Regions from separate parts of the Homo sapiens genome. Here region 2 is linked to region 1. Evidence: fine-mapped expression QTL. A gene starts in region 1. The other region holds a variant in brackets. All regions are shown on one strand. Distances are from middle to middle.

Region 1 (2,500 bases):
CAGGAAGAGGGGGGAAGGCACAAGATGCTTTTTATGGCATCTTGGACCTTGAGAGTTCGCTGCTGACATAAGCCTTACTGGAAGCTGCCATCCTCTGCACACTGGGGCACGTAGTCTGCTTGCTTCAGAAAGGCCGTTTCCCTCTGCAGCTCACAGGGACGAAGGGGCTGGGCATCCACCTGGTACTCTAGGAAAAGAAAAGTGGTTCATCAAAGAAGAGTGTGGACTGGGCTGCCAGGACAGAGACGGGCTCTCATAAGCACAGATGCTTTTCCAGGGTCATCATCATTACCTATGACAGCCTATTTTAAAATTTGGCAGCTAAGCACACTTTCTTACAAGTATGACATTAGCTCATTTAATGTGCAACATTCTCCTAAGAGGTGACAGGCAATATATCCTTGTCACTCATGAGGCACCAAGTCTCAGGCAGCGAAAGTCGTCTGCCCAAAGTCACGTAACTGGCAAGTGAAGGATCCCAAAATCAACGCTGGGACTACACGTTCCCCGCCCGCCCCCACCCTGCCGCAATTCCCATGAGGCTATTTGGAGTAAGTTAGAGAACCGTAAGGAAGTTCTTCTTGAATCTATCAAGCCATGCCCTGCAGATGTAACATGTTCCAGATAAACATTGAAATACCAATTAATTAATAATGTACATGACTTATTTTTCCATTGAGAACTCTTGTAACACATAGGGTCCTACCCAGAAATCACAACCGCATCATGAGGTGTGTGTTATTTGTTTACTTTTTAAATGAAAAAAAAAAAAAAAAAACAGAAGCTTGGCACTTTGCCCGAAGTCATATGGGTAAGTGGCTGAGCCAAAGACAGAACTTAGGGCTATTTCACTTCATAGGTAGATTTCTTTTTCTACTGCTTCTAAAATACCTGTTATGGATGACACAGACTTTGGAATAGCTAAGGGGATAAAAACCCAAGGTCAATGCCAAAAGTTTGCCAAAATGGTGGGGTGAGGAGGACCTAGAATTGAATTAGGAAGATCAACCACATTTCCCATTTCTGCTCCATCAATCACTAGCTCTGTGACCTCAAGTAATTCAGTTCGGCTCTCTAAATCTGCCTCTTCATCTGAAAAAAAAAAAGCAAATCACTGACATGTGGGAATTTGTGAAGATTAAATTAGATCGCACCTGTTCGAAGGCCCAGGGCAGAGCCTGGCTGACACTGGAGCTCCCTCCCCACCGCCTGGCTCCATGGCCTCAGAACTTACCGAAGATATTGGCCGACACCCAGCAGATGGAGGCCAGCAGGGTGAAGATCTCCAGGACCAGGGCCATTTTCCTGGCCCTTCCTGGGAGGAAGGAGGAGAAACCACTGCTTGCCCTAGGTCCCCTGGCCAGGGAGCTTTTATAGAGCTGCCGTTGGCACTTTCCTTCCCACCCCCAGGTCCTCAGTGAGGCAGTGCCCCATCCTGTTTTCTCTGCTGGTCAAAAGGAGCTCCCTCCACCTGTGTCTACTCCTCCTGAGGGCACTCGTGTGGCCAGTGGAGCATGAGGATCTTGTCTAAACTGTGGGGGAACAGAACGGGGTGGGGTGACTTCAAAATCCTTTTTTATGGGTAAAGACCAAAGCTCTGTATCTTTGGAGGGAACAGGCTCAAGCCCACAGTGAGGGAAAAGCAATCCTTTGTTCTTTCCTTCCCCACCCTACCCTTTCTCCTTCTCCTTCCTCCTTCCTTCTTTCCTTTCTTCCTTTCTTTCTTCTTTCCTTCCTTTCTCCCTTCTATCCTTCTTTCCTTTCATTCTTCCTTCTTTCTTTCCTTCCTTCCCTCTTTCTTTTCTTTCTTCCTTCTTTCCTTCCTTCCTTCTTTTCTTTCTTCTATTCTTTCTCTAACAACCTCTTAGAGCTCCACAGTAGCAGGCACCTAATCTAGACAATGAGGATATGGCAGAGAACAAAACAGGCAAAATCGTGCCCTCATTAATATAGACTGTGAAAACTTTGGTGAGGGAAGCAAAATACACACACACTCATATTCATATTTCTATTACTTTCCTCTCTTTCCTAGGACCTCAGACTTTGTCAACCAAAAGATAGCAGGAACTGTGTATTCCACAGAAAGCCTGTATGTCCATTTGGTTTCTCCTGGCAAACATGGCTTCCTTCCTTCAGTCCTGTTCCTGTGAGACCTGGAAAAACTCACCTCATCTCCCTGAGCCCCAGCCTCCTTCTCTGGAAAGCAAAGTTAAAAGGAGAATAATAATATGTCCCTATTTGTTAAGGTAGTTGTAAGAGAATAGACATTGAAGAGCACATGCTTATTAGACACTAGCAGTTATTATTATTATTATTGATTTTCTTATTTTGCAAAAGCATCATGCCAGGGAATGGCAAGTATTCAGAAGACCAATCCAGCCAGGTAAGGAGCTAGTGACAGATAGGGTCAGGAACTGGCAGGTAATGAGGGCAGGTTGCTGAGCCTGGCACCTGAGGAGAGATGGAGGGACCTGTGAGAATCTGGAGGATATGGTCCCGG
Region 2 (3,027 bases), 120 kb after region 1:
TGGGGAGACCTTAGACTCATGACCACACCTAATGGCAAGGGAGCAGAAAGATCTAGTTCAGTTGTGTGTCCAGGTACAGTGTATTTGGTGAGAAGTTTATTGTTTCCACCACAAATGTGAAGACCAAATGAATCTACTTCCTAAAATTATTTTGAATTGTTCCTCTTGTCTTTCTTCCCATAGCTATTTTCTTCATTCAGGCCACCATCACCTCCTGTTTAGATTTCAGCCATGGTTGATTCTGATGCCTCCTGGATTACCTACCTTCCAGTACATTCCCCAGGCCAGGCTATTGCAAGGTGGTTTTCTTACATTGGTTAGGCACCCTCCTTCAGGAAAGTCTTACTCCATTTTCTTTCTTCTCATTTCACCTTACATAACTGCCAATATTTGCTATAAAAAAATAAAATAAATTTATTGATTGCTTTCTGTGTGCTAGGGACTATCTCAACTGTTTTGGATATATACTACCATTTGATTCCAAACTCCTGCTCTGGAATCTTATGACGTAGATTTTATTACTGCCATTCCCATTTCACAAAGGTGAAACATGAGTTCAGAGAGGTTGAGTAATTTTCCCAAGCTCACAGGGCTATTAGGTGGAAATAGGATTCCAGCTCAGATGGTCTGACTTTAGCGAATCAGTTTTGAAACACCACTTTTAACTCTAGCCCTTGTTATATAGATATTCTTGATGTTAAAGATGTCTCATCCATACTTTTTGTTCTCAAATTTGATGAGTGCCCATCCCATAATACATACTTAATAAGGAGTTGTTTAGTGAATTAATGAATATGATAATAAATGAATAAAAATTACTAATTCCTTTTTATTCAATTTTAATTGATCTCATCTTAGAGCCTACAAGAATCTTTAAAATTTGGTTCATTTTCACAAGAATGTGTTCCATTGTCATGAACTCTACCATTTTTCTCAACTTGTTGTTCCTGAAACCTATGACAGAGAGAGTTCAAATAAAGCAGATTTTCTCAACAGTAGCACTATTCACATTTTGTACCAGATAATTATTTGTTGTGGGCAACTGCCCTGTGCATTGTAGGATGTTTAATGGCATCTCTAGCCTCTTCTCACCATCTGCCAGGAGCACTCCTTCCCTGGTGTAACATTAACAAAATGTCTCCAAAACCTGCCAGATGTTCCCTGCAGCCAAAATCAACCTGGTTGAGAACCATCAGGATAAAGAACACACAAGGCTTGTTGTAATTCATCTTAACCACCAAGGGAAAGCACAATTCAAAATGCATCTTCTGATAGCAGCTATAGCTAAAGAGCAGAATTTTGTGATGGGAAAACTGTTCCATGCCCACCTTGCCTGTGATGGGAAAGCTGTCCCACTCAACCTTGCATTACCTTTGGTTCAGGCCCTCAGTATTTTTTGCCAGTACAGTGTGCTCAGCACAGGGCTTGACACATCACAGGCAGATACGCAACAGTGAATCCCCTGTGCACTTCGATTAACCCCTCTGACCTCAATCTTGTACCTCTGAGCCACCCTCTGCTACCAACAATTTTGGAAATGCAAACCGAATTATGTCATCACTAATCTGTTCCCTGTAGCCATGCTTTAGAGGTCTCCCATTGTTCCAACACTAAATTCCAACTCCCTTGTAGCATATAAGAAGTTCATCATTACTTACCTTCCTTTTACCT[G/C]TCCAGCTTCATTTCTTGGCATGACCTAATCAGACTTACTGGTTCCTCAATAAACAGGTCAGATCATCTGATGCAGCTTAGAACTCACTTCTCCCAGAAAAACTCCCTTGATTATCAATTAGCACTGCCACTCCTGGTGCCCTCACAGCAGCCTCTAGGTAATCCTTTCAGAGCACTTATCCCCTATATAGCATAGCGATCAAAAGCAAAGACCGTGGAGGCAGACTCTCTGGGATTGCATCCCAACTATGTTACTTACTAGCTGCATGACCTCAGCCAAGTGACTTAACCTATCTGTGCCTAAGTTTCCTGATCAGAAAAATGGGATAATAATAGTATCTATTTCATACAGTTGTTCTGAAGATAATGTGAGTTAATCTATGTAAAGCACTAAGAAAGATGCAAGGCATAGAATAAACTCTAGGAAAGCATTACCTATATGTGCATTATTATTTCTTTCTTTCTCCTATAATACATTGTGAACTTTTCACACACAAAGTTTTGTCTTTTACCTCAGTACTCTTGACATTGAGCCAAGGACCTGGCACACAGTAGAATTTTGAGAAACTTTTGTAGAATTAATGCAGTGAGCAGACTTGGGTTGTAGAAATGTACTCTGCGCTTCAAATCACAGTTTTGAACTAAAGGTAACTATTATTCGTTGTTCACCATGCTTTCATTTCTCTCTAGGATATTTAGAAAGAAAAAGAGAATCTGCCATTCCTTTTCTTCTCTCTTCAACCTCAGTACCTCCAAATCTTGGCTGCATGGAAGTATCTTTGGTGACATCAACTCTTCTCCAAGTGAAGACAACTGGTTGAAGGGGACCAGGAGGTTGGACACAGACCATTGCAATGGAAATGGTGAGTTTGAGTCCTCCTTTCCATAGTAAAATTTTATCTCCAAGTGGGCAGTGGTAACCCTGTGGTCCTCAACCAATGTCAGTTCCAGGGATGACAGTCATTTTGATGGAGAGATGGGCCACATTTTTAAAATTCACTTAAAGTTCTCTCTATATTACATGTGTGATCAAAACACATATGTGTCTATGTCATGCAAAATAGCCTAATGTAAATGTGTAAATTATTAAGTTGATAATGCTGGGAAAATATTTGCACATCTCCACTGTATTTTTTCTGTAAGGGATATTGGTGGAGAAAGGATACTAGAGTCAGATTTAGAAGACCTGCATTGGAAAAAATGTACTGGAGTCAGGGTTCAAGTCCCAGTATGAGTACACTTGGATAGTACTTAACTTTGCTGAGTTTCAATTTCTTCATAAAACCATATATATATACATATATATGTATATATATGTATATATATATGTATATATATATGTATATATATATGTAT

Alleles and levels. Positions count from the first base shown, and alleles are read on the strand shown. Sizes are in standard deviations (SD) of each study's normalised expression.
For the expression in Th2 cells of the gene that starts at base 1,344 in region 1, allele G in region 2 goes with a lower level than allele C (large effect, 1.0 SD a copy in Schmiedel 2018).

The links. PIP is the estimated chance that this variant, and not a neighbour inherited with it, causes the effect.
Region 2: its variant is the best candidate, but not a certain one, in a credible set for the expression of TG in Th2 cells (Schmiedel 2018, PIP 0.87).

What each region holds. Positions count from the first base shown.
Region 1 is chr8:132,865,802-132,868,301 of GRCh38, reverse strand. TG (thyroglobulin) reads right to left here and starts at 1,344. Exons shown (of 48, transcript NM_003235.5): 1 at 1,235-1,344; 2 at 79-187. The coding sequence starts at 1,301.
Region 2 is chr8:132,746,449-132,749,475 of GRCh38, reverse strand. TMEM71 (transmembrane protein 71) reads left to right here. Exons shown (of 10, transcript NM_001382403.1): 5 at 2,362-2,534. Among named protein-coding and RNA genes, the nearest start is that of TMEM71, 13 kb to the left of the region's middle. The variant G/C (reference allele first, on the strand shown) is at 1,672.